2 separate regions of the Homo sapiens genome follow, and region 2 is linked to region 1. Evidence: fine-mapped expression QTL. Tissue or cell type: subcutaneous fat. Region 1 holds a variant in brackets; the other region holds the start of a gene. All regions are shown on one strand. Distances are from middle to middle.

Region 1 (4,246 bases):
GGATCATAGCTGACCCTGGAGTGAATGTTTTTTTTTTTTTTTAACTATCTTTATATTAGTCCATTTTCATGCTGCTGATAAAGACATACCCAAGACTGGGTAAATTATAAAGAAAAGAGTTCAATGGACTTACATTTCCACATGGCTTTGGAGGCCTCACAAGCATGCAAGTACTAAAGAACTGTGTCTGCAATTAAAATGAAAAAGACCAGGCACAGTGGCTCATGCCTGTAATCCCAGTGCTTTGGGAAACTGAGGCGGGAGGATTCACAAGCATGGTGGAAGGTGAAAGGCATGTCTTACGTGGCAGCAGACAAGAGAAAATGAGAGCCAATTGAAAGGGGAAACCCCTAATAAAATCATCAGATCTCATGAGGCATATTCACTACCAAGAGAATGGTATGGGGGAACTGCACCATGATTCAATTATCTCCCACCAGTCCCCTCCCCCCAACACGTGGGAATTATGGGAGCTACAATTCAAGGTGAGATTTATGTGAGGACACAGCCAAACCATATCATTCCTCCCCTGCCCCCTCCCATATCTCATGTCCTCACATTTCAAAACCAATCATGCCTTCCCAACAGTTCCCCAAAGTCTTAACTCATTTCAGCATTAACTCAAAAGTCCATAGTCCAAAGCCTCATCTGAGACAAGGCAAGTACCTTTCACCCATGAGCCTTAAAATCAAAAGCAAGTTAGTTACTTCCTAGCTACAGTAGGGGTACAGGCATTGGGTAAATATAGCCATTCCAAATTGGAGAAATTGGCTAAAACAAAGGGGCTATAGGCTGCATGCAAGTCTGAAATCCAGTGGGGCAGTCAAATCTTAAAGCTCCAAAATGGTCTCCTTTGACTACATGTTCACATCCAGGTCACTCTGATGCAAGAGGTGGGTTCCCGTGGTCTTGGGCAGCTCTGCCCCTTTGGCTTTGCAGGGTACAGCCTCCCTCCAGGCTGCTTTCACAGGCTGACATTGAGTTCCTGTGGTTTTTCCAGGTGCACTGTGCAAGCTGTCGGTGGACCTACCATTCTAGGGTCTGGAGGATGGTGGCCCTCTTCTCATGGTTCCACTAGGCAGTGTCCCAGTGGGGACTCTTTGTGGGGGCTTCAACCCCACATTTCTCTTCTGCACTGGCCTAGAGGTGGTTCTCCATGAGGAGCCCTCCCCTGCAGCAAACTTCTGCCTGGACATCCAGGCATTTCCATACATCCTCTGAAATCTAGGTGGAGGTTCCCAAACCTCAGTTATTGACTTCCATGCACCTGCAGGCTCAATGCCACATGGAAGCTGCCAAGGCTTGGGGCTTGCACCCTCTGAAGCCATGGCCTGAGCTCTACGTTGGCCTCTTTCAGCCATGGCCGGAGTGGCTGAGATACAGGACACCAAGTCCCTAGGGTGCACACAGCAGGGAAGGCCCTGGGCCCAGCCCATGGAACCATCTTTTCCTCCTAGGCCTCTGGGCCTATGATGGGAGGGGCTGCCATGAAGGTCTCTGACATGGCCTGGAGATATTTTCCCCATTGTCTTGGTGATTAAGATTTGGCTCCTTGTTATTTACGCAAATTTCTGTAGCTGGTTTGAAATTCTCCCTAGAAAATGGGTTTTTCTTTTCTAGTGAATTGTCAGGCTGCAAATTTTCTGAACTTTTATGCTGTGTTTTCCTTTTAAAATGGAATGCTCTTAACAGCACCCAAGTCACCTCTTGAATGCTTTCCTGCTTAGAAATTTATTTCACTAGATACCCTAAATCATCTCCCTCAAGTTCAAAGTTCCACAAATCTCTAGGGCGTGGAAAAAATGACACCATTCTCTTTCCTAAAACATAGCAAGGGTCACCTTTACTCCAGTTCCCAACAAGTTCCTCATCTCCATCTGAGACCACCTCAGCATGGATTTCATTGTCCATATTATTATAAGCACTTTGGTCAAAGCCATTCAACAAGTCTCTGGGAAGTCCCAAACTTTCCCACATTTTCCTGTCTTCTTCTGAGCCCTCCAAACTGTTCCAACCTCTGCCTGTTACCAGGTTCCAAAGCAACTTCCACATTTTTGGGTATCTTTATGGCAGCACCCCACTCTACCAGTATCAGTTTACTTTATTAGTCTATTTTCACACTGCTGATAAAGACATACCCAAGACTGGGTAAATTATAAAGAAAAAGAGGTTTAATGGACTTACAGTTCCATGTGGCTGAGGAGGCCTCATATTCATGGCAGAAGGTGAAAAGGCATGTCTTACCTGGTGACAGACAAGAGATAATGAGAGCCAAGTGAAAGAGGAAACCCCTTATAAAATCATCACATCTTATTCACTACCATGAGAACAGTATGGGGAAAACCACCTCAATGATTCAATGATCTCCCACGGGGTCCCTCCCACAACATGAGGGAATTATAGGAGCTACAATTCAAGATGAAATTTGGGTGGGGACACAGCCTAACCATATCAACATTACTTCCGTATACAACAAAATTATTTTCAGTGTTGATCATGAATAGAGACAAGTAATAATAATAGTAAAGAAATGTAGTCAGTGAAACTTTTCTTTTATTCAACTTTTGTGTATAGACTCAAGACCAGTAAAAAAA[T/A]CAGAATGCCAATTTAAATAAAACTAAAATGTCTACAAAAAGTATAAGTCAGACAATTACTAAATCATACCACTGGTGTAATGTTTTATTTCTTGATTCATTCTTAAATTTTAAAACAAATAATTAACACTTAGAAAAGAGTAAATTTTGTTTTTAAAGTTATTATTCAAAGTCAGTAAACTTCCTGTATGAGCACAACTTTGTACTTACTAAACAAAGTGTGAATGTTGCTGTTCACACTCTTAAATTTTACTGTTTTAAATTCTGGATACAACTGAAAACCCCAATGAGAGAATTGAACAAACTGAGGTGTTCTGCTTCTTTTCCTTTACAACCATTGTGCCACCATCATCTATGCCAAATCTACTGTTTAAACAGCAATATCCAAATACTGCAGGGTTGGAGACACAGGTTATACCTGAAGTGAGCTTGCAAGATTCTGAACTGTTATGAACTTAACCTTGGAAGGAAGCAGGCAGAACTACATCTGCCTGCTGGAATTAAAGAGGTAGACTCTATGCTTGGGGTTTCTGAATTAATTTCCATACAAAGGTGAATAAGACATGAAACAAAACAACAAAAATTTTACAATGCAGTGGGGATACAGATAACTTTTATTTATTTACATAATAAAAAGGTGCTTATTTGAAGCTCATATACATATAGTTAAAACTCAGTGGTAACCTAGCTATTATTTAGAACTTAGGCCAATAAGAGTTTTTCTTTTCACTTTTCTTTTCTTTTTTTCCTTTTTTTTTTCTCTTTTTCAGGGAGAAGCATTTTAACACTGACATTGTTTGGAATTGCCAGTGCATGGTAATAATAAAAAGCAGTCAGTTAAGACCAGCCTGGGCAACATAGCAAGACCCTATTTTAAAAAAAATACCCTACGAAATCCAACAAAAAGCATTCAGAATTTTAGTTGGCTTCATTCTTCCTCTTATTGTCTGCTCCCAGGGTGAACTGCTCCTACTACCCTCAGCTATGGAATGCCACTATTTGGGACTAAAAGAAAAGGGTCAAAGTTCAAAATTTGTGATTTGCTGCAGTCATTTATCCATGCACTTTTTTACTCCCTCTACAAGTTCTCAAGGGCACTTGCTGTGTGCCAGGCACTGCATTAGGTACTAGGAGTAAATATGGCATGAGACTGAACCCAAAGAATTAACAATTGAGTGAGAGGTATAAATAAGAAATTGAAGAGTAAATACATAACAACAGGGCTGCAACTGGGACAAATATGGGAAGCAAGGGAAAAGAACACCTCACTTGGTTTAGGGCTTCCCAAAAGGGTGGCATTGAAGCCAAGACCCAATTACCTCCATGCCTGGGAGCCATGCCCATGCTGACGTTGTTGACAGCCATCCTGTCTCCTCCTTTCTGCTTTCACCAGGACGTAACTTGGGTTCCCAAAAGGCCACTGTCATGCTTTCTGTTTCCTATATGACCTAGCACTGGGACTATTCACCAAGTTTTGGTCTTCTGACATCTCCTCTGTGCACTTCCATTTTATTCCCACCCACCAGTGAGGGCACTCAGGCCATGTTTCCTCAGGGCTGGCTGCACCAGGGTTTCCCTCAAAGTGTTCCTTCTGATAGTGACCAGACAGAACTCCAGGATTGAGCCCAGGCTGGAGTTGCCTGAATGGCCAG
Region 2 (4,246 bases), 67 kb before region 1:
AGTCTCCCTATGTTGCCCAGGCTGGTCTCAATCTTCTAGCCTCAAAAGATCCCCCTGTCTTGGCCTCCCAAAGTGATGGGATTACAGGTGTGAGCCACCATGCCTAGCCAGGATGGCTTTCTGAATCCTGATCTAGGTTGATCTTTCCTGTATTATCTGGCCGAAACTCTATAGATTCCTTTTCCCATATTCTCAATTTAGTGCTTTTAAAGGCCTAGAATAAGGGCATAGGTTAGAAAAAAATTAAATTACATTTTATATTTTATAGTAGTTGGTCTCCTGTATTTTCTGGCAGCAACTTTTATTACAGGACAAAGGGCCAAGATATCTTTAGCTATCCATGCAAAGAATAGTCCAGCCATTTGTACTAGTTTTATGGGAATTTATAGCCATAACACTGAATGTCTATAATGAATGAATTGAATGAATTTATAGACATGAGCCAACATGAGGGCAGATTCAAATGTTGCTAGAGGCTCCGGGGTGAGTGGAATGACTTCTCAATTTATTCTCTAGAGGCCAGTGATTCTATGATGTATTTTTTTCTTGTGTCATTCAGAGTATTATTCTTTTAAAAATTTAGGGTGAACTATTTTTGCCATCTATGCTTGTTTCTTCTTCCTTCTAATAAAATAGCCTTCATTAATGTATATGGTTTTAGTTATGATTAAATATTACTTTAGATGGCAAGTATTTAATTTTCTTAGTGTGCTTTTTGAATTGCTTAAACCTCATTAATGCCATGAAAAACCTAAATGAACCATATCTTTGTACTTGCGTTTGGCAGATAGAGAAAAGATTATTTATGTATTGAATTGATAATCAAGTGGAATTGTCAATGAAATTAAGATGATGAGATGTGATCCTCACCAGTGGCTACTTTTAGAAATTTACATTCAGAAAAATTTGATCCTGAATGGGCTCCTGATGAGTAAGATTGGGAAATCAGGACCAAAATGAAACAGATGGACAAAGAAGAGACCAAGGCCTCCATGTGCCTGCAGAATCTTCTGTCAGGATCTTGAGAGATAAGAACAAAAGAGGATTTTGAACAGTCTCAGAAAATACTGAGGTTTAGATTTTTTGATGTGTGTGTGTTTGTGTGTGTATAACAAGAGTTTTTGACAGCTTGATTTTGCAAAGAGCAAATGTATATACAATTTGTGTGTGGACCCAGTAATGTATTTCTAGTAGATATGTAGATATGCAAAAATATTTATAGAGAACTATTTCCACCTCATCATCACCCAATTTTTATGACGTGGTGGCTCGGCTTAAGCTAGTCCTACTTTTACAGACAACTTTGTTAAACTGATTGTTGAGATAAGGCAGTTGGTTCAAAACTTACCACAAAGGAAGGTGGAAATCAGAAGGATGGTTCTCAGACCCTGAGATGGGAGGGCTGCTGAGGTGATATCAGCATTGCAGAACCAAAGCTCCCCTATTTCTTTCCCAAATCAGACTCAGGATCACCTTTCTAGCTCACACACTCAAAGCAGCTTTTTACAAGATCTACAATAAGGGCCTAGATTGGGAATGAATAAATAAACAAGTCTACCCTTTTGCTCTTAACTGTTTTCACTCTCTCCTGGGAAAGTGAAAAAAAAAAAAAAAGGAAGTACATCATAGTATCATAGGAAGATTGAATTCTAAAAATTTGTATGTCATTTTAGTATGTTTCGGTATAGCTTCAGTTTCCACTAGTAACTTTCCTTAGCCATATCACTCTGTCCAGAGTTTTCCAGATCAACTTCTTTATTTCATGACTAATGCATACTTCCACTTACCTTCCTAACTCTCCTCTTCCCCTTCCCCTGCAAGCCCTTCCACCTACCTGCTTTAGGATAGGTAGAAATAAGCAGGTCATCAGGCTTGGCTTGGAAGTTCCAGATCTTATCCCAGATGTCACAGGTGTCTGTCGGTTGAAGAATTCCCTTCACGTAGTTGACACTTAAGCGCTTTGTTCCATCAAATGTAAAATCCTCCATGTCGTGTAAGGCCATTAGTGTAAGAAATCAGAGGGCTCTTCCAGACACAAAGTTATCTTCAGTCAGCATATGGCTGCGTTGTGGATAGAGGCAGCACTCTATCCACCACACTACCACACTATCCAGCCCTCTAGCACAGGCCTGTCTGGGCCAGCAAACAGGGAGAAAGTGAGTTGCAGGCCTCCCGACTCAGGTTCCAGGGAACTGGAACTCTTGTTTATGACTTTGTCCACTGGCAGTTTCCTGAGGAACTGCAGCCCCCTCCTCACCAGGCTGTGGCGTCACAGCAGAGGCGGCCACAAACCCTGCTGGCCAGCAAACAGGGAGAAAGTGAGCTGCAGGTCTCCCGACTCAGGTTCCAGGGAACTGGAGCTCTTGTTTATGAATTTGTCCACTGGCAGTTTCCTGAGGAACTGCAGCCCCCTCCTCACCAGGCTGTGACGTCACAGCAGAGGCGGTCACAAACCCTGCTGGCTGGGTCCCGTTCCAGCCCTTCCGTTCTCTGTGAGTTAACAGGACATAGTATCACATTGTTTATAGCTCTCATGTCTGTGTCCATTAAACCCTTCATAGATAATTTCAGTAATTATTCCTTCTGGGAATTTTAAACAATTAAAAAGTTGCAGGACTTGCCTGTGAAATTACAGATTCTACACAGAATGACTTCCCTGAGAGACTGCAGGGACTTTCCCGTGGGCTATTAACAGTGGGGGCCTGGATGGATCTGAATCTCCCAGTACAAACATCTGCCAGGGTCAGCTTTGTTATTTTTTAAGAGTAAAATAAATAATGCTAAACTGGAGAATTGTAGGGGTTTCATCACAGCTATGAAAACATGTATGCCTCATTTAAAGCAAAAGGGATGCAGAAAACTCCAGAGTTAACAGAAGACAGTGGCTGCCTTAGGAATCCATTCTGCCCCTGATAATCAGAAATTTCACAACTTGCTTCAGTCCCTGCCCCCGGCCTGGCCTGCACCCCAGGGCCATGCCACACTTGCTCCCCATGGCAGCACTCCTTCTGGAGATCTTGTCGGCTCTTGTGTGTCTGGCTGTCTGATTCTCTTTCTTCGTGTCCCAGCTTTGATGCCCCCTTTCTGGAGAAGCCTTCTTTGACTTTCTATGTCATCTCAAGTAGGTCCCTCCTATTTCCTTGCTCATGGCACTTTGTGTTCCTTTAGAGCAACCATTGACAGTTAGTTTTTGCGTGTTTACTTGTTGGCATTTTCTGTCTCCTTCACTACACTCTAAGGCACATGAAATGGGGCCTGTTGTTTTCTCACTGTTTGATAGCTGTATGCCTAGTGTCTGGCATTCTTCTATTTCTCGAAAGAATGAATGAGTAAAACTAAGCAAAAATTGAGGAAGCGAGTTCCTTGGGCCATCATTATGTGGGGACTAGGTGAGTATGGTGGCTGTGGCTTGACATCCTTCAGAGAGAAGTCAGGCTGCCTGTATTTGAACCCTGTGCCAAGTCCCAGTAGCTGTGGGCAATGGCAGGTTACAGAATCTTTCTCTGTTTCATATCACGCTTTTCCTCAGGTCTGAATTGGGGATCTTAACATTATCTACCTCATGGTTGTGGGGAGATAAAACAGCTTATTTAATGCTTGGCAACAGGGAAATGTTGAATAAATCATAGCTGTTAATAATAATGGGTGACTTTGTTCACCATTTCTCTGTGGCCCATGTTCTGGATGCAAACTCAGAAAAGATCAATTCTTTGGCTTTCCCTATTCCTCATCCCCTCCCTCCAGACCATGGTGAGGTGGATGGGCCCTTGAGACAGAGACTGCCAGGTGGAATGCCTGGGATGCATATGCATTTAAACAGACTTATAAAAATCACCTATAATTTTTCAGTTAGATTTTATTCTATAATCTTTTTGGCCCTGTGTGCCATCAGAGTAGAGTGGTAGATATTCAGCAATGCCTTAGCAGTTTTCTCCAGTGCGTTGTGTGCTAGAGGGGGAGGGCTGGGAGATGGGGGAGGATATGCTTCTGGACCCAAAGATGACTGACTGGGATTGAAAATAGATCCAGGGAAGATGGGAAGTTCCAAATAATTTGAAAAGTGATCTTGACTACAAACACTGCTCTTATTCTCACTTAATGTTTTTACTCAATAGTACTTTCTCATGAGGTTAGGAGAATTAAATAAATATATTTAGTGATTATAAGAATAAAGTTGGTGCTAAGTCTATATTTGACAAGCATTGCTTTGGAATTCTAAATATATGGGTTTGAATTTAAACTGCCC

Direction of the effects. Alleles are on the strand shown, and positions count from the first base shown. SD is a standard deviation of normalised expression in the study named.
As copies of A replace T in region 1, the expression in subcutaneous fat of the gene that starts at base 2,387 in region 2 goes up (moderate effect, 0.44 SD a copy in GTEx).

The links. PIP is the estimated chance that this variant, and not a neighbour inherited with it, causes the effect. A credible set is the group of variants that fine-mapping cannot tell apart.
Region 2: SULT1C4 starts here. The variant in region 1 is the best candidate, but not a certain one, in a credible set for the expression of SULT1C4 in subcutaneous fat (GTEx, PIP 0.51).

The regions. Positions count from the first base shown.
Region 1 is chr2:108,308,860-108,313,105 of GRCh38, reverse strand. It overlaps SULT1C2 (sulfotransferase family 1C member 2), which reads right to left. Exons shown (of 8, transcript NM_001056.4): 8 at 3,191-4,246. Among named protein-coding and RNA genes, the nearest start is that of SULT1C2, 22 kb to the right of the region's middle. The variant T/A (reference allele first, on the strand shown) is at 2,595.
Region 2 is chr2:108,376,095-108,380,340 of GRCh38, reverse strand. SULT1C4 (sulfotransferase family 1C member 4) reads right to left here and starts at 2,387. Exons shown (of 7, transcript NM_006588.4): 1 at 1,835-2,387. The coding sequence starts at 2,003.